Linked DNA regions of Homo sapiens: regions 1, 2, 4 and 5 are each linked to region 3. The links come from fine-mapping of genetic effects on plasma protein levels. A gene starts in region 3. Each other region holds a variant in brackets. All regions are shown on one strand. Distances are between the middles of the regions.

Region 1 (6,562 bases), 46 kb before region 3:
TAATAGACACTTGAAATAGAACCACATATAAAGTAAGGATGTGACAAAGAGTTTGGTCAGAGGCCTACTCTACTGTAGCATACCTCTCGTGTCAAGTTGTGAGGGAGGATACTTACAGCTCTCACCCACAGCTAATCATTGAGATAGGTGCCAACATCTCCCTAAAAGGGCCCATTAACCACAAATGGCCAAGTTAAACTGCTGTTCAAAAAAATATGACATACGGGCCTTGTTCATACTGGGATGGATGGGCCTCTATCTTCCCTTAGATTCCTAGAGAGCTCTGGTCCTGCAAAAGGATAAAAGGAAGCTGCCCCCGTCACCTGCAAAGGAACACACCAACCCACTGCAAGCTCTGAAAACTGCCCTTTCCTTTATCCTTTCTTTCTGTGGTATTCTCTCTCCATGCAGACTGCTGTGAGCACAAGGGGAGGTTGTCATGGTACCTTTTCCAAATGTCAGACTCACACACAAGGCTAAGGCTTTGAGCTGGTCCACAGCAACCTCTCTGCTGAAATGCAGCAGGGCCCTTGGTTCAAGCTGGAATGTTTGGTAACAGTAGGATCACAATTCCAAGGCTCTGTCCTAGGGCTTGCTTCAGCACTAGTGCTTTTTTCTCTGTGCTTCTGTCCATTTTCTGTGAAATTATTCTATTTTGTCTTCATTTTTAGCCTCTTTCAGTTTTCTTTTATTCTGGCTCAAAACTGTACTCCAGAGCTTTCCTTTGCAGCTTCCAGCACACTGCACTGCAAACCTTAAACAATTAGCCACCCTTGCAGATTCTCTCTGGCCCTTTTTAACAGCGAGGTTTCACTCTCTTTCCTAGGAAAGTATCTTAACTGTAAGTACATTGGACGGCATTGAGTGCTGCTTCCAATTGAGTCATCTGGTAAACCCATGACATGCTCTAAACACAGATGAGGCAGCCACAGAGAAAAGAGTCAAGATTCAGGTATACATGGCAGGGGACAGGAGTAGATTGAGGGAGGGTTGGGAGAATCCTGTACAAAGAGACAGGAACCAAGGTAATTAAGACTTTGACTCCAGATTATCCAGTCCTTACAGAGGGAGAGACAGAATGAGAGCCCGTGGGCTTAGCAATACAGTAAAAGGTGAAAGTAAAGCAGCGGAGAGGGGGATTAAAAAGACACTTGTCTATTAAACCTTGGAAGGAGACCCAGCAGTTGCATTATTCAAAAGGTATCTCTGCCTGGCACATTAGAATAAAGGGTTTACAGCCTAAAAGGCCCATGGGGTCATCCAACCCAACTCCTCACATTTGCAAAGGGGGAAGTGAAAGCGAGACCCTGAGTGCCACTCCCAGACCGTAAGAGTGTTGCGAGATTTAGCAAATAGCAAATAAAAACATAGAACACCAAGTTCGATTTGAAGTTCAGATAAATGACAAACAAGTTTTTAGTATAAGTGCATCCCAAATATTGCATAGAACACACTTATACTAAAAAATTGTTCATCCTGCATTTTATATATTTTATATGACGTTACCTCCCTGCAAAAGTTACTTGGCTAGCTAGCAACAGAGCCAGGTCTAGAATCCTGACTTCCCGTCTGTCAGGAAGACAGGAACGACTAAGAGGAATCCAGGAATCCAGGAACCCATCACCATGCCTGAGAGATGGCTGCTAATACATCACCTCTGCTTATAGGTCTTCACACTGTCATTAGTAAATTAACCCACAAACAAAGACAAATTCTATTAAATAAATGGGCTATTTACCTTTTTAATTATGACATATCCGGTGTTGGTATGGGGATCTGTGTCAACCCCCAGGCGTCCCTCACTGTCTCCCTTTATGATATGATACAGAATTTTAGAACTCCCAGTAAATGGCTCATCAGCATCAGTGGCCTGGATGGTTAAGATGGTGGACCCAATGTTTGTGTCTTCAGCAAGAGTCAGGTTTCCATACTAAGGAGAAAATGGAGAAGGAAACAATGAGAAGGTCTGCTGTCATCAAAGCCAAAGGACAAACTTATCTCTCTGGTTTCAGAATAGACACAAGTCATAGTTTGCATCAATCTTCATGGGGCATGTTTTTTCCTATTGATGAATATATTGCAGTTGATTTTAACATCAGTCATACTCATGAGCTGATATCCATTGTACCAAAGAACGCAATACCTCAGAGAGCTACTGGTAGGATTCTAAAACAAATTCCCCCTCCCATATCCAATTTGTTTAATAACTTAATTATTGTAGTAGTAATGATATAAATAGCCACCATGTATTGAGTATCTATCAGGTGGTAGGCACTTTATATACATTATTTAATTAATTCTTAAATCAACCAATGAATAGAGGTTGATTAAAAGCTTGAACTTTGGAGTTAAACAGCCTGAATATGAATTGTAGGCTTGCTTCTTATTAGTTGAGTGGCTTGAAGCAAGTTACTTCACTTCTTTAAGTGTCAGTTTCATCATCTGTCCAATGGAGACAATAGTAATAGAACCTACTTCATGTTTGCTGTGGGTGTTAAGGGAGACAATGCATGTAAAGCTCCTAAATTCTTGGCACATAGTAAGTGCTCAATAAA[G/A]AAAATCAACAAAACACCTTACGGAGTAGTTATGTTACCATCTCCACTTACGAGGAGCAAAGGCTTGGAGAAGTAAAACCCACCAAGGGTCACACAGCTAGTGGGTCAAAGGGATTGGGATTCAAAGCCATGTTTGTGCAACTCCAAAGCCTATGCTCTTGAACACTGGCCTAGACCATCTCCCACTCCACTGAAAATCCCCCAGATTATCTCTCTTGGCATCATGATCCTAAAGAAGGTTATAAGTAGGTCTCAGAAGAGAGGACCACAGCATTGAAACAAGCAGGTTCACTCTCTGTAGCCAGATTAGTATTTAAGCTCTGAGACCTCAAGTGCAGGATTCTTACCCTCAATCTAAAAAACACTGTCTCGATAAAAGGCGAGGAGGTCACAAAGTTAGGAAAGGATCAAAAGCCCAAGAGAATGGAGGCTGAGAAGAAATGGGTTATTTGATGCCTGCTGAACCTCAGTGCCTGTTATACAAGACATATCCACTCACACCTCTTCCCACCCCTAGCCCCCTCATAAATCAATTCCCTTCTTTGTTGCAGGCTTGTCCCTATTTTGATTTATGAACATCATCACAGGGCTCTGGGCTGCCTCATAACTGACTTCAAAAATAACATAACAGTCTAGTCAAATAGGCTTCTTGCTCCTTCAAAATAGAGACTTCCCTCCTTAGGGAAACAATGATAAAGTCATCACCAAGTCTGAACGCCCTATCGATGACAAGAAAACAGTAATTTGCATTTTTCTTGAGGTTCTAAATTGACTTTTTTCTTTCTGTCCAGTTCTAATTCTCTCAAATGTCTTGGGCACATTTTTCTTTGGCTTAAGTCAGAGATTAATTTTTTTCTTCTCCCTTTCTCTTACCCAATTATTACAAATTAAATCGCCAATATTCCAAATATTAAATTTTTGGCTAAAAATGCTTGAGACCTAGCAGTAAATCTATTTATTGTCCTAACACAAAAAAATATATAATGACAAACTGTAAGCCGCCATTCACCTTTTTTCAATTTGACAAAGATTGTGGTTGTTGTTTTTAAGCAGCCCTTGGAATAAATGAGCTATTGGCAGGAGTTTATAAATGAATGTTCCCAGACACCTGTAATAGTAAATGTTATTGTTCCCCAAAAAGTTCCACTGAAGATGGCATCTGGGTTATTTGTGCACTGACCAAGGTTACCTGTTAAGTCTGGCACTTTTCCTAGCTACTGTCTGTGTCTCTATCCCAGAAGAAAGGGTGAAGTAAAATGAATAAAGTAAAGAAAAAACAAATAATGACAACTACTCACATCTGATTTTTCAAAGATGGGGATCTGATCATTGATATCAATAACGTTGATTTGCACAAAACAAAGGGTCTTGAAATCTGAAAACCAAAGTCATATGTCATAGAAATTTTCACTGAAAACCATGCATTAATATCAGAAATCTGCAAGAAAATACTTGGCAAGTGAAGTGACAGCCATAGCCACAATTTTGCAATTGACATGCAATTTGTGCAGAGAGTGGGCTCTCTGTTTCCCACCTGTACCCAAGTGGTCACCAAGTGTGGGGCAGGGTGGCTAAAGACAGATCTAAGAGAGATTTTTCTAGGTTTTTCATTGCCGTCCACCTGCTGTCCTCCTAAGTAAAGTTAGGTAAGGTTTGTTCCTGAGCAGGATGGCTTCCTTTTGTGAAGCAGTCTTTTTCTGACTAGTGAAACTTATGTAATCTTCAAAGTCCAGAGCAAAACTGTCCTTCCAGAAAGCCTTCTGTGAGCATCCCAGTGGCTGTCTCTCCTTCTCTGAACACATCCAACCTACATCTGCTCTGACTACTATGATGGTGAGGTCCAAGGGCCTGCTCTCTTCTATCTAAATAAGGGAGGAACTACCACCATTGGCCTGTTCACAAGAGTCTGGCTACCCAGCCTGCAGGAAGCAAGGTGGGGACAGAGGTAGCTCCTGGAACCCTGGAGAAATCACCCAGGCTTTCAGGGATGGGTTTCACAATTCCAAGACCTAGGCACACAGCCACTTCAGCTAGATTCCAGATGTGTGTGGAGTGCAGGTGGGGACAGGATGCCTGGGGGAGAGAGAACAAGAGATAAAATGACAGGTTCTTTGTTGGGTTGCTGTTGTTCTAACCATGGTGCACTGCACTGTATAATGGTTAAGACTCTGGGCTTGGAATTCACTGTTTGGACTCTGGCTCTGCCACTTAGCATGTATGTGAGAGCTTGGGTGCCTCACTCAATTTATCTGTAAACTGTGAATAACAGAACAGATGTTTTCATCATAATACAGTTGTTAGCGGCCTCTATATAGCAGCAACTGTATTGTTTACCCGAGTTACTCATTCATCTTCATGATAACTTCATGTTGTAGGTGCTACTGTCATTCCCATTTAATTAACAGATGAGGAAGCCAGGGAATAGAGAAGTTCAGGTAACCTAACCAGGGTCACACAACTAACTAGTGATGGAGCCAGGATTCAAACCCAGAGGTTCCCTTTGCCCTCTGCAGCCACCATCCATTCCTCTGTCTGTGCTCTGTAGCCCAAGGGGCTGACCTTATGAACTGCATCAATGTACATCCTCACCCTGAGGGTAACAGTTGGGTTCTGCCACTGAGAGGCGTGGCAAGAGACTGGAGGGAGGACAGGAAGAGTGTAGCTGGGGGTGTCACGCCCCCGTTGCCAACAGCCCTCTTCTAGTGACAGGCACAGGCCTTGCTCCTTTGGGGGATGCTCCCCTCCCTGGCTCCTTCAGGTTTTAGGGCAGAAAATGCTGCTTACTGTGCTTCACACCTCCTGTTGGTTTCCCTTAACCCTGCCCACAACCTTTGCAAACAATCCCTTCTTTCAACTCTTTGAGGGGAGTCTCCACTTCCTGCTGGGATCCTGACTAATATTCCCAGGTAGTTTAACTCTAGAGCTGGTGCTCAATGCACTGGACATGATCCCAGGGACAGAATCTATTAACAATCCAATTACAACCAAGTGGATATTGATTGAAGTTAAGGCTGGTCCTCAGAACGTTTGTAGACAACAAGAATGGCTGAAGACTGGAGTGGTCCCAGACCCAGAACCCACTGGCTCACTGCTCTGCACACACCTCGTTTGACCAGCAGTGGGCCTTTCTGGGTAAAAGGCCTTCCCTGGTTTTATGTAAAACTGTGTTAATTATAGCCTAGTCTCTAGTTTTCTGTAGTGCACAGTTGAATGTTTAGTTATATCAACACACACATGTATTTTAATATATTTTATAATCTGGTCCATATTTTCTATAGACGTACTCATGCAAATAAACAATTTGTAATCTGATTCCCACTTTAAACTCTATCTTCAAATTGCTCCAGGTCCTCATGTATTTCCACATGGATTCCCACTCTCCCATAAGTCCTACATGATTTTGTAACTTGTCATATTCATCCTTCAAAGCCCAGCTCAGAAATACCTCTTCCAGAAAGCAGTACCTGTTCTCTCCCTCCACTGAGTCACTTATTTCCTTCATGGGCTACCTTGGGCAGTTCCTTGCAATTTACTGACTCACATGTCCGTCTCTTCTACCAGAATGAGTGCTCCTTGAGGACAGAATCATCTATGTCTCCCCAGTACCTTGCATGGTGCCTCAAATAGGTAAATGCAGAATAACTGCTGAAAGAATGGACTGTTGATAGTGTGAAATTGTTAGCTCGTCATGAATAGGGAAGGTTTATTATACTTACATCTGTTCTATCTCTTACAATAATGCTAGACAAATATTAGGGCCTTAATATTTGTCAAATTACTGGGTTTCAAACATTCCGCATTAGGGCCCTACTAAACCTGGCTTCTGCCTAGTATCTCAATATCCCTGTAAAGGACAGAAACATGAAGCACAGTGTGAAACGTTTCTTGTTTGTTCTCCATACCTGTGTCATCCGTGCCTGCCAGCAGAACAATTACTGAATTATATGGTAATCGAAGATTAGTACGCATTAACTCAAAGGACCTTCTAGGAGTCTGAGTGCCCTTGA
Region 2 (6,562 bases), 16 kb before region 3:
AAAGTGGTGTATTATGGTCATGGAACCTACTCGCATTCTCCCATATACATTAAACCATCTCTAGATTATTTATAATACCTAATACCATGTAAATGCTATGTAAATGATTATTATACTGTATTTTTAAATTTGTATCATTTTTATTGTTTTTCCCAAATATATTTGATTCTTTGTTGGTTGAATTTGCTGATGCATGAACCCACAGATACAGAGGGCCGTCTGTAAATTTTTGGCAGTTAATGGAAGGCACTTGCCTTAGAAGGTAGGTAGCTCAGCAACCTCTGCCACTTCCCTGGTTCAGGGGACGGGGAGGGGTCACGGGCACCCCCAAGAAGGCTCATCAGCATCCTCCAATCACTTCAGGGCCAAGTGACTTTCTCAGGGGATGTCTGGTAAATACAGTAGTGTTTTCCCCTTCTCCACTACATTTCCAGGATTATTTCTGTGTCTTTAATAGCACTTAAGATGGGACTTAGGTCCCTTCCCTTATTCCCACCTGCAGACTGCCCCTCCATCTGATACTGTTCATGGTTATCTAACTAAATAAAACGTCCACCTCCCAGTGCACCTTGACAATGGCCCACATGGGGGCTCAGAGAAGGTGGTAAGGAAAAGGCAGTCCTCTGGCCAGAAAGCTCATTCTAGCACTGACTCCAGAGAAGCCGTATCTTCCAGTACTTGAAGCAGCAAGCTCATTGATCAGACAGCCTCGAGGGTGGATGGTCATTCCCCTCTCCAGAGACAGGTTCCCTTTCTACTCTAGGGGAGAGGCAGAGCCTGCAGCCACCAAGCTCCCTGCAGAGGGCTGGGAGCACTCGCCCCAGAGATGATTGAGGAAGTCCAAATAGAATGTCAGGTACAATTCTTATGATACTGAGGCCACTCATCTCTCTGTTTAACTTAGCTTCTGAAATCATTCTTGATAATGAGAATGCCATGCCTTTATTTTATTTCCTGCTATACAATAGATAAGGAAGTAAAAGTCCACCAAGAGAGCATACAAAATCAAGAGGACAGTGATCAAGGGTAGCTTTTACCTGGAATATAATTTGACTCGGTTCTTGGCCTTCATAAATAGAAAATGTCATGGGTTTCAGGGGTCCACTAAACTTCCCCTCTTGGCCATATCCAGTTGCCTGTTAAAAAAGAAAGAGAAAATTAGCATCTTGTATGAAGTGTCTGTGTCACTCATTGATTTTATTAGGGCTTCCAGCACCAATATACAAAACATAGGATTCTATCATGGCTGAAATCTGATCAAAACAGGAAAGAGTGTAATAGCTGTTGAAGCTCTACCACGTCAAAGTAGCTTGTTACAAACCTTTCCATTGCTTTTCTTAAACATCTGAGCAGAATGTGAGATGAGAAGAATCACTCTATGAGAAGAATGTTAACATCCCCATATTACAAATGAAGCTTAAAAAGGTTAACACAGCACACATGCTCAGGCCTAACTGAACTAAAGCCCATGGTCTTCCACAATCCCACACTGTCTTCTAAATTATATATGTTTTTACTCCAGCTTCATAAAACACCTCCCTCCACTCTTTTTATTTTATAAAGACATTTACAGCAGATTGCCAGCACTCTAGTGTTTTGAATTTATAAGGGGGAGAAAGAAAATATAGACGTATTTAGTACAAAGTTTGCTTGGCACAGTTACACGGTAAGTTTTAGCCAAATTTGAATCTGAATTTGAACTATAACTTTAAGCAAAGCTTACTATTTTAACATTTGATTAGCTCTTTACATTCATTTAGAAAAAAATAAAAGTACAAAATGTTTACTTTAAGCAGTAGCCCCACAATGGTTCCAAAATCCAAAGACCCTAAACTTGAAAGCTAAGCAGGCTCTGCAGACACCCAAGTCAAGACTGGAGTAGTAGTGAATGTGGCTGGGATGGTAAGAAGAGTGGCTCACACTTGCTAAGTTAGTACATGTGGAGCTCTGTCCTAAGCACATTTAATCCTGACAAAAACTCTGGCAGAAAGTTACTATTGTTACCCTTGTTTAACAGGTGATGACACTAAGACCCAAAGAGGTTAAATTATTTGCCCAGGTAGTGGCTGGAAGCAAGATTTGAACCTGCAACTCTGGAACCAGCCCTCTCAGCCTCTATGCACCAGCACCCACCAGAGCGGGTGAAACAGCCAAGGCAACCTGGAGGGAAAACTGGCAGGCTGCACTGAAGATGTGCATGAGAGTGTGACTCCCACCATTCCCAGTCTCAGAACATGGGGAGCATCACTGTAGCCCTCACCACAACAGCACCTCTGAAGGCAGATGGAGTGGGCACCCACGGGAAGGGACAGCCAGTCATGCAGCCACGTTGGGGCACCCTCTAGGACCAGGGATTTAGTGCCTCATCCCCACGCTGGCCTTCTCTCCTTCCTGGGCACGACTTTGGGTCTCCCATTTGTGGAAATCAGGGGTGAAAGAGATTGAAATCAGAAGCATGATGTGGCAAGCCAATGGTTTTTGGAGCTAGACAATAAAAATAAAAGAGTAAAAAGTCTTCTCACTCCCTGAACTGGGTATGCAGGACAGATGTCCAGGTGCCACTAGGTTGGGGGAAAACCATTTATTTTCCAGTTATTTAGGGAGAGCAAGCACACTCTTGCCATGGAAACTGCTCCCTGCTGGGAATACCCAAAAGCCATCAATATGCCAGTGATCAGAGAAAGGTCTTATGCTAGATCCCTCAGTCTGGGGAACCTTGACTAAGTTGGATGCTGGATGTCTGGCAAAAAAGCAATAATGAATGAGAACACAGGGGCTTTGAAGTTTGGTCTTCTGTTCTCAGATTTGTGGTAGGGCCTTAGATTTGCTGCCCCTGGGCCACTGCCAAGCCCTCTCCTTTTCTTCCTCCCACCACAGAGACCGGTAAACCAAGTTCCCTTTCCCAGGCTCACTTGCAGCTAGGAAGGTGGCCAAGTGGCCCAGTTCTGGTTCATGAAATGAGAGGGGAAGTCCACTGGCAGTGGTCAAGCTTCCATATTCCTGATTTTAAAAAAAAGGGTAGTTGTGGCTGCCATTGCCCTTTCCTGTGACTCTTGCTGAGACAATGTACCTTGTGTCTGCAGTTGGGGCAGCTGTGATGAACCCTGAGAGGACAAACCAGCTCAAAAAATGGTGTAGCAAAGAAAAGTAGCCCAAGTCTCTGCAACATCATGGAATTGCTAAACCTGCCCTGGATTGCCTACTTCAGACTTCTTGTTATCTGAGGAAAATAAACCCCTATTTATTTAAAATGCTCTAAAGTCAAATAAGTCAAATTTCCTGTTACTTGCAAGAAAATGCTTTTTTTTTTTTTTTTTTTGAGACAGAGTTTCACTTTTGTTGCCTAGGCTGGAGTGCAGTGGCACGATCTTGGCTCCCTGCAACATCTGCCTCCCAGGTTCAAGCGATTCGCCTGCCTCAGCCTCCTGAATAGCTGGCATTACAGGCACCCCCCCACCATGCCCGACTAATTTTTTATATTTTTAGTAGAAATGGGGTTTCACCATGTTGGACAGGCTGGTCTCGAACTCCTGACCTCAGGTGATCCACCCGCCTCAGCCTCCCAAAGTGCTGGGATTACAGGCATGAGCAACCATGCCCGGCCAAGAAAATGCATCCTTAACTCACAAAGTAATGTTGCCAGACTTCTAGCCCATCTCCTCCTTTCTAAGTTTATCTTCCTTTGGGAG[G/C]TCTTCATCCCTTTCACTCCTTTTCCACATCTTTTCCTGTTCCATCAGCTCCTCTAGAAGGCAGGGCATAAGAACTGGGTGTGCAGGACAGATGTCCAGGTACCACCATGGTTGCTTAAGTGAGGTCAGTGCTTTCTGTGGAGCTGCTGCTTATCAGCTTTGCACTCATGTCAGCAAGCAGTCTTTCAGTTAGTCACACCAGTGAAAACTACATTAGCCACACACAAACAAGGCTGCACTATTCCAACAAGGACAAGCTGGCTCACCCATCAGAAAATGAGAATCAAGTCTTGGTTCCAGGGTTCAAAGTTGCGTGCTTGTATTGGGGCAACAAATCTCTCTTCCTGCCAATAAACATGACTATTGGGGCTATAAAGATTTCAAAGTGCATGTGGACACTGTGAATCATCAAGCCGCTTTCCCCAGAAGTGGGAAAGATGGTATGGTGGAAATCTGTGAAAGGACAAGATGGCGGCTTTATGCAGGAGTTGGAGGGAATAGCGTTTTCCATCTTGCACAAAGAGGTGAAAGGAAGAGAATGGAACTGCCATCTTAAAGTCATTTTTAGCATCTTTTATGTGGCAGTAATGGGACTTGATCACCACAAGACATCATTTCTTCTGACCAATGCTATGAAGAAAGTATCTCCAGAGAAGTCCCACAGTAGAAGCAAAGCATTCAGAGACAGAGCTACCTCCAGACCAGACCCAGCGCCATTGGACCACCAAGCCCCAACTCTTAACCACATTGTTACTGCCTTCCAGGTCAAAGGACATGTGCAATTGCCAGGTTCACCTACTTGGTAGCTCCATCAAGAGCTCAGTGCAGTGATTATGTAGTATTTGTACCAAACTCATCTTCCTTCTGGAAGGCCCAGGCATAACTCCAAAACAGATGGCTCTGCCTTGGTTTCCTCCGATTCCCTGTTCAGTACCATTTCCCAAACCCTGGATCACTTATTTACTCTCTCTTTGGTGCCCCTGAAGTACATCAATGCCGTATTTGTGTTTCTAACCCTCTGATAAATCTATCTCTTGGAAAAGAACAGAAGATCTACTCGCAGTCTGGAGTAAATTAGTGCTTCTGTTGAATAAAGCCCTATGCAGAAGGCAAGATTCTTCAAGCAAACTTCCAGTCTTCATAGAAGAGGCCTTGGGAGGAGGTAGGAGAGAGAAGTGGCTCCCTCCCAACACCCCTGAAATCCCACTCCCTGACTTCACCCAGAGACAGCTGTGCTTGTGGCTTTCACCTGGGTAAGGCACTGCTGCCAGCAGTGGTTGGGCAGTATTTTCACTCTAGATAGAAATCCCACTGGGGTGAGAGTAGAGAGAAGGAAACCTTATTTTCACCTTTCATCCAGGAATAAAAATGCATGTTCCCTTCTCAGACAAGAAGCAAATAAGGCCTAATAATTAGATATTATTATTAAATAATTTAGCAGTGTGCTCAGTGCTGAATCTGCAAAGATGATAAAAGCACAGTCCATTTTTCATGGAGGTCAGAGTCCATGTGGACGTACACACTGAACACTTAAAATGCTGTAGTAATTATAGTAGCTAATGTTTATTGTGTGTTTAACCACCAGTCGCTGATCCAAGAGCTTTGTAAATGCAGTATCTCATTGAATTGCCACAAAATCCCATAAGACAAGTACTATTATTAGATCCACTTCACAGGGCAGAAAACTGAGGTTCAAAGCTTAGGTAACTCACCAAATTCTTATCACTGGTAGTGGAGGCACCGAGTTTGAATCCATGTCTGAATTTGTCACTACCCTGGGATAACATAGGTGACAAAGGGCATTTGAGGGGGTAGCATGAGGAGAGAGGTCAAGTGGGGATGTTTGATCCAGCCCTTCCACAATCCTGGAGACAGGCTTTGAGCCTGCAGGCTGTGAGGACTCAGGCTTCTCATAAAGTTTGAACTGCAGATTTCCCCCGGGAGGAAGGCTCTGATAGTTTTCAAGTTTCATTCAATTTCACACTGTCACTATGTGAGCTCTAGGGTATTTTTTGGGACTTGAAATTTGATGTATTATTTATGGATCCCAGAAGAAAGGAAGTAAGATTTGAGGTATGAGGATCTAGAAGCTTCCTTCTTTAAAAAAAAAAAAAAGAGAGCAAATGCTTCCTCTAAATCTTATAATCTCGTTTCATAATGCAGCAATTTTGGGGGCAACCTTTATGAACCTCAGCAGTCACGTAGATTTTAAAAAAAGGCACCTACTGTTTACCCCAAGGTCAAGGGTGAGGACTCCCCAGTTTCTATCCAGCTCCGAGCTCTAGAAGCCTGTCAGTCAATAGGGTTAACCCAACAAATGGTTAAAGACAACCAGAAAATTCCAAACCCTTGATGAGAAGAAAAGTATAGAGCAGAGCAAGGCTGAAAATAGAGAAAATGCTTTTCTTGATGTTTTGGTGGTAAGTTTTCATGCGCAAAGTTTAAAAAAGAAAGTCAAGATTAAGGGACACAGACTAATTCATGTATCAGTGCAATGTCATTTCAGATTCCCTGAGCTATAGATAGATTTGTTTTCAACATTACCCATAACTGGTGTTGGCTTTTAAGAGCTGGAAAGAAAATACATTCCCTAGTCGAGGGCAGACATGTGATTTGTAGCCATTTCATCGAAAATATCACAGTGGAACAAGCTATGTTTCCATTCTATACAACAACTTAATTTTGATAGGTCATCTTTTTTTAAGTAATAATAGCCATTCTTTCCCTGGTGTGGGGTAGAAAGATAGCAGAAAATATTCTAGTAAACAAATAGAGAAGAACACCCTCTTCTCTTACCAAATAAAGCATAAGAAGACACAGGGAGTGAAGATGGGCCTGAAGTATCATAGTTTTCTTTATTCAAATTCCTGTGA
Region 3 (6,562 bases):
TAGAATGATTTATAATCCTTTGGGTATATACCCAGTAATGGGATTACTAGCATAATTATTCTTATTAAAGAAAAGAATAACAAGTTCCAAGAAATATTTGAGAGAGGTGTCATGTTGTTCCTGGTTGGCGTTTGTTCCCCCAGTGCTCCCCAAGACAGAGCAAGGGAAGGATCAGCTGGGGAGAAGAGGCCTCTCCTCCAAGTCTCCCAAAACATCCCAGCATTGAATGGAAGGGGGGCCAGAGCAGTCACAGGAAAGGGAGCCACTGACCTAGGGACAACAGTGACTGTCCCACCAGGGCACTTGCCTGATGTTGTAACCCATTTATACCTGAGGTTGCAATTTTTTGAATTTTTGCAATCAGACCTTGACGATGACCTTGTGCAGAAGGATATAAATAACTCCCACATGCTTAGTGTTCCAATAATGGAACACTAGGCATAAATGGGTTTTAAGCAGGTAGCCAGGAAGAATTTCAGCATTGACTTCCCTCACGTGTGCAGCTATATACCCGCAAAAACCCTAGAAGGTGGCAGGGGGAGACCCTTTCTCCCCCAGATCTAGCAGAACAATATCACAAGCATCTTCCCTGGACTAAAGAGGAGGACTGGAATCACTATTTCTCATAAAGGGTGGCTTGACTTTTTTTTGACAAAGTGTTTCTTTATGTATTACACAACATTTCTTTATGTAATATAAAGTTTACGGATGAGCATTTTGTCAAGATAATAAAGCAACACATCCTGGCCTTAGAAATTCAGTAGGAAGTAAATCTAAATTAGGTTCCATCCCATAGGATTTAGACACTGAAGGATCGAAAGAAAGAAAGAAAAGAGAAGAGAAGAGAAAGAAAAATACTCTAATACCAGTTCATTTGCAAAGTGACCCAAGGCAGGAATTTTAATGCCAAGAATGTGCAGTCATGCTTAAGTATGGCAGGTTCACTTTCCAATTTCTGTAATTAAATCGTAACTGACAACTGGGATGGGTAGGAGAGGAAGGGAAAATAAATTTAATTCTGCTTAATAAAAGGTGCCAGACCACGATGAAATCTCATTCATGAATTGTTTTTTTTTTTAATCATTGGAATTGTTTTAAAAAATAGCAAATGCTCAACAAATGCAAGCTAAGTTAAACACTTTGGACAACTTACTTGAACAACACAATCATATAATGTGGGTCCTGTTGTTATCCCACAGAGCAGGAAACTGATGCTTAGAGCGCTTGAGGAAGTGGTGTGAATGCAGGGGCCAAGCACCAAGCCACTCTGCTAGATGGCCTCTTGGTGAGGAAGAGAACTCATCTTTAGCTTAGATGTTAAGGGAACAAATCTACCATTTCCATTCTCCTCATCCGTCACTTAAGAACAAGTCCTAATATTTTTAAGTAATAAGTATATGGTCAAAAATGAATAACTCAGAAATATCATGAATGAGAGAATTCCATGTCAGTCTTACAGAATATTTGAAGAGAAATTTTCTTTGTACCACATACACAAAAATCAAGCATAGCTTAGCTTGTTACGTATTGCTTAAGTGAAAAAAAAAAATCAACTTTAGTGTAGTTAATACCTCAGCCACTAGGGGAATATCTGCTTTTATTAAGTTAATATTTCTTGTACCTAAGTAAACATTCCTTCTTCTTCCTGTCTGTTCTTACAAGTAACAAATAAGTAGATAGGTATTCCCTTAAAATTCCGTGTGTCTTTCTTTGGATAATCAACGAGCAGTTACAGAACAACTAGCCCCATTCTAAATCTGATACCAGAGATTTCTGAATCAATGCAATTTTATGTCAAATCTATACATCTCTACCCATGTGAACCAGCTTCTGTTCAAGCACTGTTTGTCGGCCTCCAGAGCAAGGAGCATGACAATGCCCAGCTTTCCTCCTCAGAGCTGTTGCTGTTAATGTGGAAGAAAAATGAGGGACACATCCTTCTAGACATTTTTTTTGACAATGGAACGAGAAGTAGAGTTTCTGCCAGGATATATTTTGCACATCATCCAGATTTTTTTTTTTTTTTTTTTTGAGACAGGTTCTCACTCTGTCACCCAGGCTGGAATGCAGTGGCACAATCATGACTCACTGCAGCCTCAACCTCCTGGGCTTAAGGAATCCTCTCACCTCAGCCTCCCAAGTCGCTAGGACTATAGGTAAGTGCCATCATGCCTGGCTAATTTTTAATTTTCTTGTACAGTCTGGATCTCCCTATGTTCAGACCTTCCAGGCTGGTCTTGAACTCCAGCACAAGCGGTTCTCCCTCCTCAGCTTCTCAAAGTACTGGAATTACAGGAATGACCCACCACACCCAGCCATATTTTGCCTTTTGTATGAGAAAGGAGGAGGTACCGGAAATGTAACCTTCACCTTGAACAGTGATGACTTTTTTCAGGGGTCATCTGGGTGAGTTTCAAAGGATGCCCCACCTGCACCTCACCCAAAGACTTATATGGGAACCATGAGAGGGGCTTTAAAATGCTATATATATAGCAAAACCAATAGTTTTATTATTCTCATATTTTTGAATCCTACTTCCTGAACATAGAATTAGTTCCTCTCTTGCATAATGGTAGATGCTATTTTTATGGCATCACTGATTTTTTTCTTATTTTTCTAAAGAATGAAACAAAAATTTCTCAATTCATCCTGAGTCACCTACTTGAACTTTCTCATGGAACAGAGCGCTAACATTCACTGGATGTGTACCATGCACCAAGCAACATAGTAAGCTCTTTACCTACTTATCTAATTTACTTCTCACAACTACCTAGTTAGGCAAGTCTCTAGTGGCAGCTCTCTGTTCTGTGCCCACAGGTTGGAAAATGATGAAACTGGCCTAACCCATTTGGCCAACCCTGAAGACTCATATGGCCCCGTAACTCACTAGAAACCCTCTCTCAGTAAAGGACTCGCTTTGTTTCCTGGTGAGAGCTGAATAGCATTCATCTTCCTTTCATCTAAACATGTGTTTTTTCTTCTTCTTTCAAATAATGCCTCATTTGCTATTTAAGCTTTTGAAGAAAAATAAAGACAAGAAAATATTAGAGAAGGCACTGTCCTTCCAATCTGCTGCTTGGCATCCCCTACCACAGAGGGCATCTGTCCCTATAAAGTCACCTGTCATAAAAGACCAAGACAGAGGCAAATATCGGACCATTGAAGATACCAATAAGCTGTGTGTGGCTTAACATAAAAATAACCACACATTAGCAGGTGGTAACTCCACCACCAAGGCCAAAAGCAGCCCAGGAAGCTGATTAACACGCACATCAGCCTCTTCTCTCACTTGTGAAGGCAGGTCTGTCTGTCTTCAATTCTTATTCTAGTACTTTTACAAAAAGACTTTTCTTCTTCTCTGCATGTTCCCTCCCTTGCTGTGTCCTAGACAATTCTAAGAATCCCAAATTGAATCTCATTCTCTGAGAAGTAGATAGAATGACATGCTTTTTGAGAATGTGATTCCAACCCCAATTTCTAGAATACAAGAGCCCTAGAGCATCTTAAGACCAGGGACTTTTATATACTCATCACAAAGAATGGATGTGATACTTGTTTAAACATCAGAGAACTCAATTTCCCCTTTAATTCCACTGCCAAGCTTGATTTCACTGCAGCCACTTCATCAAATGAATTTATAAAATATGGACCAATGAAAAGAAACTACAAAAAAAAATTGTGCTCCATAAGCAAAACTTGTCATGCCAGCAACAAATTTCCCTTCTCCGCATCTGCATAGCCCACCTCAAGGAACAAATTTGTCAAGCAACTTTTTAAGTGCCCTCCCCCTCCATCTACTTTGTCCTTCTGGAATAAATACGTTACTGACACAGTTAAGACATGTCAGCCCTTACCTTTCTGTAAGTCACAAAATGGTGGTTAAAAGTCCTTTTCTTCCATTCAGTGGTCGAGACTCTTGCTACGACTGGAGTATCTCCCCCGGGAACACTCCCTCTTCCCTGCTTTGCCTCCCAGCCTCTCCCTTCAGCTTCAGTCAAACATTAACCATTAACATTTTTTATTGCTCTTCGAGAGCCACTGGGTATCATAAAAAGTGTCATTACTTTTACTCCAGGAAAGAAATGACTTTGTATCAAAAGAAGTTTAACTTACATCTAATCCATCTCAAAACAGGTTGCTACATTTTTCAATGTAGATGAGTCAATGAAAAGACAAGAAGTTAGAGTGGAAAAGTTTTTGTGTATCCAACTATCTCTAGAGTGTGAGGTTCATGACATCAAAGACTTTCCATATTTTGTACCCCCAACACTTAGCACAGGAGACTTGATCAGCAAATATTTATGTAGATTCCATCTCAAACACAAAAGACGGAGCAGGGGCGCCATGTCTGAGCAATGACACAGTTCATTGATAACCAGCCACATGAGATATCATAAATGACTCAGAAGACATGAGGAAAGACACAATATGGCTGTGCCTGCTTTTGAAATCCAAGGGTCCCTTCCAAAGTCTGCAAGAAACAACCGATAGCAAATTTCCCCCAAACACAAACCAAGTCCTTTTTTCCCCCCCACAATTCAGGGAATGGATTTACCTAGGAACAACTTATTTTTCCCCAATCAAAATGAGGTTTTTGATTAACCAATAAAAGCCAATGCCCCCAGATTTCTCAAGTCAAGGCTTCTTTTAGACCAATTCCTGATTTCCACACTTTGGTCACTCTGGGAATCCACACTGAAGGTGAGCATCAATGTCATGTCTGTGTCTGGTGTGTTACACTTGGCCCTGTTTCTGTGGACCTTCTCATGTTCATTTCTTGGCTTCTCCTGAGCTGAGGTTGTGTTTTCCATTCCTCTCCAGGTGTGCATCTGACAGAGGGAAAGCAAGAGAGCCCAGCCCACTCTCTAGAAGGGCTCCCTCCTTTCCAGATTTCATGAGAAGGTTTCATGAGTGCTCTAAGCCACTGTGGGAATAGACCTCATTTATCCTGAGGACCCTGCAAGTGAAACCATCTAGTTGCATGCCAGCTGTTAACATCCTTGGTGGACTGGTGGGTTCAGCAAAGGCCCTTCTTGCTTTGTCCCACAGCCAGCATCACTCATTTAGAAGAATGAGGTTATTGAGGCTAAGCACTTCTCACATTCTTCACACCTCTGCCCTCCCATTAGCTGAATAAAGTGTGCTTGTTCTACAAAATCAAATCGCTTCCACTTGCCACATGTTTCAGTTCCTGGAATCAAGGGCAAGCATCTCATCACACAGCATTGTTCATAAAGAAGTTTGGGTCTTCTTTGAAAATTTTAAAATAATAAAGTGCTTTTAAATTTATGAGTTTTTTTTTTTCAAAAATAAAGTGCATATGTATCATTTATAGTCATTGTTTTTCAGCAACAATAACAATGATCGTGACATGTTGGTATATCAATTAAAATTCTGTTTTCTCATTTAGCATGTCTGCAAAGTAGATTCCAGTTTATAGACAGAAAATGGGGACACAGAGAGGTTTTATTTCTTGTCTAAGTCACACAGCCTTTGACTACAGAATCGGGACTGCAACCCTGTTCTGATTCAAATCCCATCCTATTCACTACAGCTATAGACTCTGCCAGATTTTTTTCCTTCCAGCTTTATGCGAGTAAAAAAAAAAAAAAAAAAAAAAAAAAAAGTCCAAGGGCAGAAATCCCTGCATGAGCCCATTCCTGTTGGAAGATGGCCAAGTTCCGAAATGGGGTTCCTCTGTACATCACTTGCTATCTCTAGCCCCCAGCTTCCAGCTCAAAGAATTAGGTTAATTAAACACTGAAAATGCCTAAACCACCCATCAGAGAAATTAACAGGTGATTATTGCATTTCTGAATTACAGAAGCTATTTCTGTACTGTGGGATACCAGGTTAACAAGATTCTGAGAGCTGTTCATATATTCCTTACATGGTTTAGACATCCTTCCAGATTAAATCCAAATGTTAAGAATGTGCACGTTTCAGGTAGCCACCACTGCATTTTAGGAACTCATTTTCATGAAAAGTGAGACATTGCTGGTTCAATAGACTTGCTAATAATAGGAATAAGGAAAATGTAATTGATAAATATTACTGATTTAATTTTCCAAAGCAAAGGAGGTATGATTTATAGGATGAAAACAACTGAAGGCCAGGCGCAGTGGCTCACACCTGTAATCCCAGCACTTTGGGAGGCTGAGGCAGGCAGATTACCTGAGGTCAGGAGTTTGAGACCAGCCTGTCCAACATGGTGAAACCTCATCTCTACTAAAAATGCAAAAATTAGCCAGGTGTGGTGGCAGGTGCCTGTAATCCCAGCTACTCAGGAGGCTGACTCAGGAGAATCATTTGAACCTGGGAGGTGGAGGTTGCATTGAGCCGAGATTGCACCACTGCACTCCAGCCTAGCCGACAGAGCAAGACTGCATCTCAAAAAAAAAAAAAAAAAAGAAAACAAAACTGAACAAGTGAAAGGACTTGGGCTAATGCTTTCAACTCACAGCTTCATGGTGGTGAAAACATTTCAACGCTTTTGTCTATAATGTTTTAAGCATTCCTCCAATATTATCCCTAGAAAATACAAATGTCCATAAATAAGTAA
Region 4 (6,562 bases), 39 kb after region 3:
TGTAGTCCCAGCTACTCGGGAGGCTGAGGCAGGAGAATGGCATGAACCCGGGAGGAGCAGCTTGCAGTGAGCCAAGATGGCGTCACTGCCCTCCAGCCTAGGCGACAGAGACTCTGTCTCAAAAAAAAAAAATTGTGTATGTAATGTGTGTGTATATATATCTGAGTGCATACACACATGTATATGCATAATAGGTATGTATGTATATGCAAATAAAATTGCAAATACCTTTCAAGAAAGTGTTCTCCAAAGCTATCTCAAATTATCCACACGGTAATTTCTCCAAGTCAAGCAACTGCCTTGGGGCCTCTGAGTGATACTAGCAAGAGTACTTCTCAGTCCTCCTGCATTTTTACTTTTCCAGAAGCCTGACAGTAAGGGGGTAGTTTCTCTACTTCCAATGGAGTGGTTTAAAACGTTAATACAACAGAAGATACAAGAACATTTTTGTTTTATTTGAGCATGATCCCAGTAAAACTGAAATAACAATTACTTGTCCTGAGTTCCAGAAAGGGCATGCTCTAGGATACTCACCTTCCTTGGTAGATGCTGGAATAAATAAATAAGACTGACAGCATACCCATTTTTGGAATATATGTATTGAAGAGCGGAGCAAGACAAGAGTCTCATTGATATTTGTTTTACTAATTGTAGTACTCTACTTTTCCTTTAGCTGTGAGCCCCCTCTCTCCCACCTCTACCCTATTCCCCAACACGTGCACGCGCATGCACACACACACACACACACGCATATGTGCATGCACACACACACACGCATACGTGCATGCACACACACGCGCATACGTGCATGCACACACACACACACGCATACGTGCATGCATACACACGATCACCTGTATGTTCCTTCGCTAAAAACCTCATGTCCTTGGTTTGCATATGTTATTTTTTCCCTAGCTGCATGACAAGAAAAACAGGTGGATAATATTTACTTCCTCATTTCCCCAGGGTTGGACTGGATGATTTACTGATGGTTGGGTAGAGTCTCTTGTCGTTTTGTGGCTGTCTCCTATCCAGTCACACGACTGGACTCCATATCTTACTCCAGCGCAATCTTGTCACCAGGGCCTTGGCCAGGGCTTGTGTCTGGCCAGAACGGCTCCCTTTCTCTCCTGCTGTCATTTTGTGTTGCTCTCTGGCTATTGTGGGCATCAGGCCTCACCACTTTATGTGCACTTCTCACAGAAAACCTTGAATGCTGCTGGACACGTGTGCTAAGTCCAATAAGCACAGCAAATGCACATGCTGGGCTGAGGCTGCCCCTGACGAAGGACTTCCTTCCTTCTGCCTGAAATGCCTTACTCACTACTCCTTTGCTTGGCTGTTGCAGTAATGAATGTCTTCTTTTTTCTTTTTCTTTCTTTCTTTTTTTGAGACAGAATCTTGCTCTGTTGCCCAGGCTGGAGTGCAGTGGCACAATCTCAGCTCACTGCAACCTCCACCTCCTGGGTTCAAGCAATTCTCCTGATTCGGACGAGAGTCCCAGCGTTGCGGTGGCTTCCTCATTGGTCTCCCTGGGTGGGTCTCATGACTCGGTTCCTGCCAGGCTCAGCCCTTCTGGGCGATGTCCTGAAGCAGCACCACTCTAATCTGTCACACCCGTGTTTAGAAATATTCAAGCAGCTGCATTACCTTCCAAGCCAAGTCCAAATTTCTCAGTTTGGAACTCAATGTCTTCTACAATTGCTTCCCAACTTACCCTTACAGTTCACTCGCTCTCCACCTCTTGGGCAAACAATAAATTGATAAGTTAAGTGCTTTACATTTCATCCTAATGATATTCCTATAAGATGTGTGTTATTATCCTTGTTTTTCAGATGAAGAAATTGAGGCACATTAAGATTGACTTGCCCTAAGTAACCCAATGTATTTAGTTTCTTGGGGCTGCTGATATTACCATAAACTCGATGACTTAAAATAACAGAAATGTATCCTCTTCCAGTTCTAGAGTATAGAAATCCAAAAATCTTGATGTTGGCGGGGCCATGCATCCTCTGAAGGAGTTAGAGGAAGATCCTTCCTTGTCTCTTCAGCTCTGGTGCTTGTAAACATTCCTTGGCATTGCAACCCCAATCTCTGCATGGCCTTCTTCCCTCTGTGTCCCCTCTGTGTCAAAATCTCTCTTCTTTCTCTTATAAAGGCACCACATATTGGAATTAAGGTTCACCCTTAATCCAGGATGATTTCGTTCTGAGATCCTTAACTAGTACATCTGCACAGACCCTATTTCCCAATAAAGTCACATTCTGAGGTTCAAGTGGACACAAATTCTGGGGGAAGACTGTTTAACCCACTACACCCAACAAGTAAGAATTTGAAACTAAATCTCTCAGGCTATCAAGCATCATACATTAACACCTTCACTTAACGCCTCCCAGAAAGCTCCCGGCCAAATTGGACTTCTCTCATTTTTCTATATAGATTTCTCCCTTTCCTGCCTCTCTGTCATTGCTCATGCTATTTTCTTTACATAGGCCAGTTTTTCCCTTTTTCTTCCTTTCAACCAATCCTACCTGTGGAAATCTTGTGTAGTCTTCAAGATGAAGCTCAACATCACTTCCTCTAAGAAGACATCCATGGGCCAGTGCAGTGGCTCACGCCTGTAATTTCTGCACTTTGGGAGGCCAAGGCAGGCAGATCACTTGAGGCCAAGAGTTCGAGATCAGCCTGGCCAACACAGTGAAACCCCGTCTCTACCAAAAAATACAAAAATTAGCCGGGCGTGTTGGCACCTACCTGTAATCCCAACCACTCAGAGGCTGAGGCAGGAGAATTGCTTGAACCCAGGAGGTGGAGGTTGCAGTGAGCTGAGATCATGCCACTGCACTCCAGCCTGGGCAACAGAGCATGATTCTGTCTCAAAAAAAAAAAAAAAGAAAAAGAAAAAGAAAAAAAAAGACATTCATTACTGCAACGCCAAGCAAAGGATTTTTCTTCCACCAAAGCTAAACTGCCTTACAGCACATGTCTCCGATGGCCCATATTATCTTCAACCTCACGTTCTAGGTTTCTGTGCAGTTGTCTCCATTCCCTACTACATCTGCTTCCTGCCACTGTTAACTATATTACAAGCACCTTAAAGGCAAAACTGCCTCCTCCCACCATGTGTTCTCCACAGTACTTTTCTTAAGCCGGAGCTCCACAAATTTGCCCAAGTGAATTTAGAATCATCTGCATCTTTCTCTGCATTGAATAGTTCATGTATTTGTAAGCAAAAATGTAGGATGCTTAAAAACTCACCTTTCCCCAATGCTCCCACTTTTCCCAACTGGAATTTTTTAAATGGCCCAATTTTCTTTTCCACATCTAACTCAATCATCTTAACAAACGTTTTCATCATTTGAATTTTATCTAATGAATAAAAATTGAGTCCCTTCCTGGTATAATCCTCTCACAATTTCTTTATTTTCTTCCTATCACCAGTGCTACCTCCTTTGGCTTTTCAGGACAAATTTATTACTCTTGAGATCTCTGAGGATGAGGATAATATCTTAGCCATCATTATATTCCCAGCAGCTGTTAGCACCTGGGTGTCCAATAATATTTGAAGAATGCATGAATGTGTGAAGGTGTGGATGCTGCACTAGAGCAGGCAGAGTCAGTGCTGTCCCTGAGATGATGACATAACT[T/C]TTGCAGGTCTCACATAATCCTTACCACAACCCTATGAGGTGGGCATTCTTCCCATGTTACAGATGGGAAAACTGAGGCTATGAGATAGTAAAGAACTTGACTCTTGGCCACACATCCAGTAAGTGATGAAACCAGATTGAAACCCAGGTTTGTCTAACCCTGGAGCTAAAGCTCTTAACCAAAAATCCTCTTGGATTGGATTGCAGCCGGCATTATCCTGCCCTGCTTCAAGCCAAGGGAATGTGATCATGACAACCTTGAACATACCCTTAAACCTGGAGCCTTGGCATCTGTTGGCCATTTGGTTGGGAAGGTCTAAAAGAAGTGATGAGGAAGCTTGAGATTGTGAGAAAAATAGTGTAAAGAATATATATGCATTTTGTGTGTGTGTGTGTGTGTCTGTGTATTCTGTGTATAGGATGATACCTGGGGATGAAACAGGCTGTGTTTATAGGAAAGTTTTGGAGATAAGAATATACAAGTGACCAGGAGTCACAGGTGGACCTCAGTCCTAGCTCAGACACTTAGCATCTGAACAAACTTGGACAAGTCATTTATCCACCTGAACTGGTTTGCTGTGAGATGGCCTATTGACCTCACATAGGTGTTGGGAGGATCTATGAAGCTCAAGAAGAAAGTTCGTAAAATCCCAGTATATGCAGTGCGCTGCACTGATGAGTAGAAGGGTAAGGAGGAACAGAGTGGTGGTCCCTGATTCAAAGGAGTTTCCATTCAAATTAGGGGAAACAGACATGTAAAACTAACTCTAAATGATACGGAATGGAAAATGTGCAACCATGAAAAGGAAGATCTCTTGAGCTCTTTACTGTATGGCAGGTTAAAAGATGTTAATCTCACAAAGATGTTAACCTTACCAAGTGGGTATTATTAGCAATCCCATTTGGTAGATGAGAAAACTGATAGCTAGAAACCTTTAACCTTTACTCCAAAGCCATGTTGCTAAATTCCACAGCCAAAATTCACCCCAGATCTATGTAACCTGAATCTTTACTTGTATCATCTCCCCATGCTATTGCCTTGAGCAATTCTAAGATGCAAAGTGCAGAGAGATGGGAACCTTTGTGCTCAACTTGGAAAAAGGGGAGAAAGGGCAATGAAAACAGAGCAGACACCCTTTAAAACTGCGTGGCTTTAAGGCCAGGCGTGATAGCTTGTGGCTGTAATCCCAGCACTTTGGGAGGCCGAGGCAGGCGGATCACCTGAGGTCAAGAGTTTAAGACCAGTCTGGCCAATATGGTAAAACCCTGTCTCTACTAAAAATACAAAAATTAGCCTGACGTGGTGGTGCATGCTGTAGTCCCAGCTACTTGGGAGGCTGTGGCAGGAGAATCGCTTGAACCCAGAAGGCGGAGGTTGCAGTGAGCCGAGATCACGCCACTGCACTCCAGCCTGGGTGACACAGTGACTCCGTCTCAAGAAAACAACAACTGTGTAGCTTTAGGGAATGTCTGAAGTCCCATGATTGTCACCATCAGTGTGTGTCTCACTACAAACTCAAAAAGCTAGGGAGAAGAGAATGAAATAGGGTGCATATAGGGCCAGAGAAGATGTGAAGGGAGAACACCAGAAGTTCCATTCCAGCAAAAGGGCTGCATACGGCCGCTGGATAGATGCCAAGTGATTAATGTCAAGCCATATTAATGTCAGAGAGGAGAATTTGGTGAAAGCTTTGCCTGGCTAGATCTCAGGCTGGAAATCACTAGATTCCTTTATTTTATTTCCCCCTAATCCTTTATAACTTCCTCTAATGCCTTAGTCAAGCTTAAGACCATCAGCCTCCAGGGAGCAAAGTGAAGCCCATCTGTTCAGTCAGGCATTTGCCAGACCAAAGTAAAAGGTCAATCTGGCTTTTCCTATAACAGCATTGAGATGACCCCAAATACTTCCCAACGGTATCAGCCAAAAACAACTTTGCATTACCGTGAATCGTGATTTCAAAGCAGAGATGTCAGGGATATCCTTTAAAACGGATAATGACTGGGCTATTGCTAGTGAGAAAAAGAAAGAAAACAATAGGCATATGTCTCTTTGGAATGTGCTTGCTCTAAAGGCTGTATAAAAATAATCCTAATCATCTTGTTTGGGGAGGAAAATCAATCAAGAATGCCTTTTTTCAAATATTTTATTTCTTTTATTATAAGACATATAGGTAAAAACTTGCATATTTTGAAAAAGATAGAAAATGGTAATAAAATGGATATTTTTCTTATTAAGAAATATGTTCATAAATATGCTTTATCAAATGTTAAAATGGTTATTTTGCAAAATAATAATAAATAGAGCAGAGCTGTGACATACAAGGGTCAACCAAAGTACTGGAAGTTTTTATGCTATATGTTTTATAAAAATTCAGACTTCTGATTATACATTAAAAATTGACATTTTGCACTACAGGGTATCAATAATTCTGATTTTAAAAATATTTTTATGATGGCTCCATGAATTCAAAAATAATAAAACATAAAAGGTGGTTTGACTAAATAGAATCTGATTCAAATAATTTCCCCCTAAATAAGAAATTGTAAGATATAATTTTTGAGCCTATAAGGGACACATGTATCAGTTCCCAATTCTATATGTCTTGGTGGGCATTGAACAAAAATTGTTTGCTAAGCCTTTGTTTCCAGCAAGGTCCACATCATTTCTTTTCACAGTTTGATGGAGCAATAATAGTCACGATTCTGATGAGCCTAGTTCTACAATTCTAGCTCCATGGATCTTAGATTCGTAGAAAGTTTTCCCTCCTTTGAAGAAACTCATTGACAGCTTTCTTATATTTGTTTATGACTCATTGGCCTCAAAGTCACATATCAGAACACTGGGAAAAATTTTTAATGATGAAAAGTTCTTGTTCTAGGCATTCTTTGTAAGCTTTACTTCTCTACTATCCAAA
Region 5 (6,562 bases), 77 kb before region 3:
CAACCAGTGTTTATTCTTGATTTGTCACCACTCTTTTCATGTCTTGTTTTCTTCCACATGTTAAATATATAATAACCAAAACTTTACTAACATACGAATGAAGAAAACATGCGCAGCATGTATGCATGGCAGGTAGTGAGGAAATCTGGCCAGCTGACTGGTTCCTTTACCAAGGTTTGCAGAGTAGGTTGTGTTTGAACACCTTCTGTGGGTCTGTGTCATTTCCAAGTTGAAGAATTTCAGCCAAAGAGCAACATGTCACATTGATTAAAGATGGTTAATGACACAGAAACATTTCTGTTAATACTAAGGGAAAAGGCTGTTCTTTTATTTATTTATTTTTCCTGAGTCCTCACGTTTTTCTTCTCTGACAAATGTTTGAAATTCAGTGAAATACCAAAGGAGTCAAGGATGAAGGGGACACAGGATGGAATCAGAAAAAACATAAATGGAATCCAGGCAGTTCTATGAGACAACACTGATATATCTCCTTGATAAAGAAAAAATGTACAGAATATTTAATGAGTCTGTCTTGCCCCAAAAGGGAAAAACACAAGTAGCTAAGCCATTTGCAGAGAGGAAAAATGTCATGGAAAAATGAAAAATCTCTCTAATGTCTATAGCACATGAAATATCTAAGTAGGTGGGTGCAGTGGTTCATGCCTGTATTGGGAGACCAAGGCAGGCAGATCACTTGACGTCAGGAGTTCAAGACCAGCCTGGCCAAATGGCGAAACCCCGTCTCTATTAAAAATACAAAAATTAGCTGGGCATGGTGGTGGGTGCCTGTAAACCCAGCTACTTAGGAAGCTGAGGCAGGAGAATCATGTGAACCCAGGAGGCGGAGGTTGCAGTGAGCTGGGATCACACCACTGTACTCCAGCCTGGGCGACAGAGCAAGACTCCACCTCAAAAAAGAAATATTTAGCAAATATTAAAGGACAAGAGGGAATATCTGTTTAAAAAATTATAATGCACGTTAGATGAAAAGTAATAGGATGAGATGGTTGTTGCTGAAATAGCACTTGCTATATAAATTCAAACATTCCTTTTCAAATTCAGCTTCTCAGAGGTTTGACTTCAGATGCTTGAGCACTTTCAACATTATCTTTGCCTTTATCCTTCTTTATGCGGATAAACACAACTGCTAAAATTATACCTAAAAGAAAAAACCCAGGGTCAAATAAATGGGACCTTTTAAAATGTACTGTCACATTCAGTTATAAAGTAGTATTGTGGTAGGAAAAAAATGACTCAACTTCATTTTTGTATGTGATTCAACAAAATTTCACTGTCCTAGTGAATAAGGGACTCTAGTCGTTGGCCTTCTTGGAGAAATGAGCTTATCATTTATCCTGTTGTATGTATGTATCAAGTCCCAAATCATAGCTGACTTGGTGGCTCTCACTGGATCTCGCTGTAAGAATATAGGACCTAATGTTCCACACTATGGAGTGTATATGTCCCACACTATAGAGTGTATAAGCACCTGACAAAGTTCCTGAACTTTATATATACTTAATATTGATTCTATTCTTCCCCTTTCCTAGAGAAAACAATCCAATTAGCACAACTAGAAAGCTGTTCTCTGACCTGTTCACCTCCCTGAAGCTGATTTTCATCGTGTCCATACCAACTATCGCATTTCCTTGGGCGCCTTCCTCCTGGATCCTGCCTATGTTGTTGTGGGACCCTGGGTAGACTACTTAACCTTCTTGGTTTCTCCCACCTGATACATCAAAATTACACTGTGCAGCTCAGCACTGATTGTGTACTGTCAGAGTCCACTATGAAGAAGGAGTTGTTTTAAGGAAATTAACCTGCTAGTAAGTTTATAGGAGGAATCATGGCAGAAAAGTCTGGATGCTCAGAAACTTATAATTCCAACCCTATCTTGAAAATAAGGTCATGAAACTGTAAAATCCTATTACTTCTATTTCTGGATGTCCCCAAACTCAAGCAGTCTTTAACTTGTGGTAAGATTATGGAATTAAATTGATACGTTAAGAAAATTGCTATCTGATTTGTAAATTCAAAAATCCTTTCAAGGTGGGAGGGCAAATAGAATAAGAAAAGGCACAGAGGCAGAAGGGACCTATGTAAGTGAGTGGGACCTCAAAAAGACAGCTCAATTACCATGAAAAGTGTGCAGTAGATAGTGGTTCTCAGGGAGGAAAGATGATCACCATGCACACATTAGGATGGGAAGTGGCCATGACATGAAGGCCCTCCCATGCCATAGGGAGTCCAGACTGAAGGGTATAAAGAAGTGAGACCCCCTTTAGATGCATGAATCAGAGTCCAGTGTGACACACTGGATCATGGGAGAAAAGATCAGATGCTGAGAGAACAATCAATAATACTTAGAATAATCCTAGTCCTTCTTTTAAAAGAAAAAGGATATGAAACCATAAACCCCTTCACTCAGGTACACATGAAATAATGAAGTATCTATTCCTAATGTTTAACTTGTGGTGGGGACAACAGTTGAAAGAGGGCAATTACTATATAGGTTGAGTATCCTTAATCTGAAAATCTCAAATCTGAAACTTTTGGGGTACCAACTTGATGTCACAAGCATAAAATTCTACACCTGACCTCATGTGACAGGTTGCAGGCAAAACTTTGTTTCATACACAATATTATTTAAAATATTGTATGAAATACCTTCAGACTACGTGTATAAAATGTTTATGAATCACGTGAATTTTGTGTTGAGACTTGGGTCTCATCCCCAAGATATCTCATCGTGTATTTGCAAATGTTCAAAAATCTGGAAAAAACCCAAAATCTGAAACACTTCTGCTCTCAAGCATTTTGGGTAAGGAAACACTTGGAATAGGCACTGAGTTGTTTGCAAAAAAGAAAAAGACAGCTAGATCAGGGGACTGTACTGTCTAGCCAAGCAAGGGGCTATGGCAGAGGCTGTGGTCATGATGCAATGGGTTATTCTGGGTAGTAAAGAATCAGGGTTCTATGCATAGGGAAGTTCTGCACTACACATTTCAGATATCTCAGCATCGCCACTGGAAGGCTAACTTCTGCCTGTAACAACAATGGCAGGTGAGACCATAAACTCTGGTGTAGGATCTGTGTATGTCACTCTTTCCCCATCAAGCACAGTGCCTGACACATGGCACAGCTACTGCATTTCTTCCCTCTTTATCACAAAAGCTTTGTAACTAGGCATAATATATGACAATTGATGACCATAAAGCCCCTTATATTTCTAAACTAATAAGGCAATAGAGACAGAGGGTAGTACTAAAGCTGTAACTCCAATCAAGAAAGTCTGATGTAATTTGCTGGTGATCTACCTTCTGGGCTATTGCCTGAGTTGCCATTTGAGCAGCCACCAGACCAGTCCAGGAAGACAGGCCCTGAGATGAGCTCACATTTCTGAGGCCCAGGATAAGACTCTTTGAATTAAGAAATTACACTCACCAATCACCAGAAGGGTGGTCAGCAGTATACCAACTGCCATGCCCACAGTGGGTATCCCAGTCTGGTGACCTGCTGGCCGGAAACAACTTCCTTCCACACAACTGCAGAATGTAACTGAAAAGCAGGACAGTATTTGGTAGGATAAATTCTCAAGTGAATAGTTGCAGAATCCCATATCAAAGACAAGAATCTCCTCAAACGGCCCATGGTGACAGATACTAGCCTGAGTTGCCTATAGCAGAATATCTACCTGGTAAAGAAACAATGCCTTCCAAGGGTGGCCGACCCCCATCATTGATGCGGATCAAGACGACATAC[T/G]CCCTCTCCTCAAACTCTGTGTGCCTGGTAGACAGTCGGGCATGAGTACCTGCCAGGACAGGAAAAAAAAATGAAAATACAACTTCAGACCCTGGATTAGCAGGAATAAAGCTCATTTTGTATCACATACTAAGGTTGACTGGAACATGGCTAGATATGAGTTAAACTGCCCAAAGTATCATCCACATCATTCCACATGTATCTTCCCATAAGGTAAGAAAGGGCTAAAGCATCCTTTAAGTTCTTAATTCATGATTTCTCTGTAGAAATTTATACTAAATATAGTCAATTATCATTTGTAGCACTTATGCTCTATAAAGTTGCCCCAAACACTGAATTAATGAATGCTGAACCATTGCTCCTAGAGGAAAGACAGGGTTAGGTTTCTGTGAGCTTCTAGTCATATTTTCCCCAACTGATCAATACATAACCTTGCTTTTTGTGTGTTGCTGTTCAAAGATATCTTATTTAACATATATTGTTCATTCTAACATTTAACTCACATCTAACAGCACTAGAACTTCCTGAACAAAGCTTATCAAACACACATATTTAGGTTGGTGGAAAATAATTGCAGTTTTGGACATTACTTTTAATTTGTGTCCCAAACCACAATTTTTCCCTGTAAGGCACACATCACAGCCTTCCTGTGCTTAGGAATTCTAGATAGCACTTCAGCACTATAGTTCAAAGCCATTTTTTTTTTTATCATGGGTCATCTTTTAGGTTTGACCCTGTGTGGTTTTTTTTAATACTTTGTGCACATGTACCCTAGAACTTAATGTGCAGGTTTGATACGTAGGTATACATGTGTCATGTTGATTTGCTGTACTCATCAACTCGTCATTTACATTAGGTATTTCTCCTAATGCTATCCTCCCCCAGACCCCCACCCCCTGACAGGCTCTGGTGTGTGATGTTCCCCGCCCTGTGACCAAGTGTTCTCATTGTTCAATTCCCACCTATGAGTGAGAACATGCAGTGTTTGGTGTTATGTCCTTGTGATAGTTTGCTGAGAATGATGGTTTCCAGCTTCATCCATGTCCCTGCAAAGGACATGGACTCATCCTTTTTTATGGCTGCATAATATTCCATGGTGTATATGTGCCACATTTTCTTAATCCAGTCTATCATTGATGGACATTTTGGTTGGTTCCAAGTCTTTGCTCTTGTGAATAGTGCCACAATAAACATACGTGTGCACGTGTCTTTATAGTAGCATGGTTTATAATCCTTTGGGTATATACCCAGTAATGGAATTGCTGGGTCAAATGGTCTTTCAGGTTCTGTATCCTTGAGGAATCACCACACTGTCTTCCACAATGGTTGAACTAATTTACACTCCCACCAACAGTGTAAAAGTGTTCCTATTTCTCCACATCCTCTCCTGCAACTGTTGTTTCCTGACTTTTTAATGATCACCCTTCTAACTGGTGTGAGATGGTATCTCATTGTGGTTTTGATTTGCATTTCTCTGATGACCAGTGATGATCATGTTGATGTGTCTGTTAGCTGCATAAATGTCTTTTGAGAAGTGTCTGTTCATATCTGTTGCCCACTTTTTGATGGGGTCGTTTTTTTCTTGTAAATTTGTTTGAGTTCTTTGTAGATTCTGGATATTAGCCCTTTGTCAGATGGGTAGATTGCAGAAATGTTCTTCCATTCTGTATGTTGCCTGTTCACTCTGATGGTAGTTTCTTTTGCTGTGCAGAAGCTCTTTAGTTTAATTAGATCCCATTTGTCAAGTTTGTCTTTTGTTGCCATTGCTTTTGGTGTTTTAGTCATGAAGTCCTTGCCCACGCCTGTCTTCTGAATGGTATTGCCTCGGTTTTCTTCTAGGGATTTTATGGTTTTAGGTCTAACATTTAAGTCTTTAATCCATCTTGAATTAATTTTTGTGTAAGGTGTAAGGAATGGATCCAGTTTCAGCTTTCTACATATGCCTAGCCAGTTTTCCCAGCACCATTTATTAAATAGGGAATCCTTTCCCCATTGCTTGTTTTTCTCCGGTTTGTCAAAGATCACATGATTGTACATGTGTGGTGTTATTTCTGAGGTCTCTGTTCTGTTCCATTGGTCTATATATCTGTTTTGGTACCAGTACCATGCTGTTTTGGTTACTGTAGCCTTGTAGTATAGTTTGAAGTCAGGTAGTGTGACACCTCCAGCATTGTTCTTTTTGCTTAGGATTGTCTTGGCAATGCGGGCTCTTTTTTGGTTCCATATGAACTTTACAGTTTTTTCTAATTCTGTGAAGAAGGTCATTGGTAGCTTGAAGGGGATGGCATTGAATCTATGAATTACCTTGGGCAGTATGGCCATTTTCACGACATTGATTCTTCCTGTCCACGAGCATGGAATGTTCTTCCATTTGTTTGTGTCCTCCGTTACTTCGTTGAGCAGTGGTTTATAGTTCTCCTTGAAGAGGTCCTTCACATCCCTTGTAAGTTGGATTCCTAGGTATTTTATTCTCTTTGCAGCAATTGTGAATGGGACTTCACTCATGTTTTGGCTCTCTTTGTTTTGGTGTATAGGAACGCTTGTAATTTTTGCACATTGATTTTGTACCCTGAGATTTTGCTGAAGTTGCTTATCAGCTTAAGGAGATTTTGGGCTGAGACAATAGGGTTTTCTAAATATACAATCATGTCATGTGCAAACAGGGACAATTTGACTTCCTCTTTTCCTAATTGAATACCCTTTATTTCTTTCTCTTGCCTGATTGCCCTGGCCAGAACTTCCAACACTGTGTTGAATAGGAGTGGTGAGAGAGGGCATCCTTGTCTTCTGCCGGTTTTCA

Alleles and levels. Alleles are on the strand shown, and positions count from the first base shown. The strength of an association depends on the size of the effect and on how common the allele is. Not every link is listed here.
With allele C in place of T in region 4, the plasma level of the protein whose gene starts at base 3,927 in region 3 is lower (weak association).
With allele T in place of G in region 5, the plasma level of the protein whose gene starts at base 3,927 in region 3 is higher (strong association).

The links. PIP is the posterior inclusion probability: the model's chance that the variant is causal. The UK Biobank Pharma Proteomics Project read protein levels with antibody pairs (Olink). The fine-mapping took linkage between variants from a reference panel, not from the people measured, so its PIPs are less certain.
Region 1: its variant is fine-mapped to the plasma level of the CDH17 protein (UK Biobank, PIP above 0.99).
Region 2: its variant is fine-mapped to the plasma level of the CDH17 protein (UK Biobank, PIP 0.98).
Region 4: its variant is fine-mapped to the plasma level of the CDH17 protein (UK Biobank, PIP above 0.99).
Region 5: its variant is fine-mapped to the plasma level of the CDH17 protein (UK Biobank, PIP above 0.99). The variant lies in the coding sequence of CDH17. If it changes the protein, the assay may bind it differently, which can mimic a change of level.

Annotation. Positions count from the first base shown.
Region 1 is chr8:94,158,233-94,164,794 of GRCh38, forward strand. It overlaps CDH17 (cadherin 17), which reads right to left. Exons shown (of 18, transcript NM_004063.4): 11 at 3,854-3,930; 12 at 1,739-1,930. All of the region lies in intron 1 of LOC105375647 (a long non-coding RNA gene), which reads left to right. Among named protein-coding and RNA genes, the nearest start is that of CDH17, 47 kb to the right of the region's middle. The variant G/A (reference allele first, on the strand shown) is at 2,556.
Region 2 is chr8:94,188,150-94,194,711 of GRCh38, forward strand. CDH17 (cadherin 17) reads right to left here. Exons shown (of 18, transcript NM_004063.4): 2 at 6,486-6,556; 3 at 1,038-1,136. The coding sequence starts at 6,536. Among named protein-coding and RNA genes, the nearest start is that of CDH17, 17 kb to the right of the region's middle. The variant G/C (reference allele first, on the strand shown) is at 3,690.
Region 3 is chr8:94,204,629-94,211,190 of GRCh38, forward strand. It overlaps CDH17 (cadherin 17), which reads right to left and starts at 3,927. Exons shown (of 18, transcript NM_004063.4): 1 at 3,855-3,927. RefSeq lists an enhancer at 1,454-2,653.
Region 4 is chr8:94,243,476-94,250,037 of GRCh38, forward strand. It overlaps GEM (GTP binding protein overexpressed in skeletal muscle), which reads right to left. Exons shown (of 5, transcript NM_005261.4): 5 at 5,778-6,562. Among named protein-coding and RNA genes, the nearest start is that of GEM, 16 kb to the right of the region's middle. The variant T/C (reference allele first, on the strand shown) is at 3,648.
Region 5 is chr8:94,127,182-94,133,743 of GRCh38, forward strand. It overlaps CDH17 (cadherin 17), which reads right to left. Exons shown (of 18, transcript NM_004063.4): 16 at 3,695-3,811; 17 at 3,445-3,558; 18 at 1-1,159. The coding sequence ends at 1,059. Among named protein-coding and RNA genes, the nearest start is that of CDH17, 78 kb to the right of the region's middle. The variant T/G (reference allele first, on the strand shown) is at 3,763.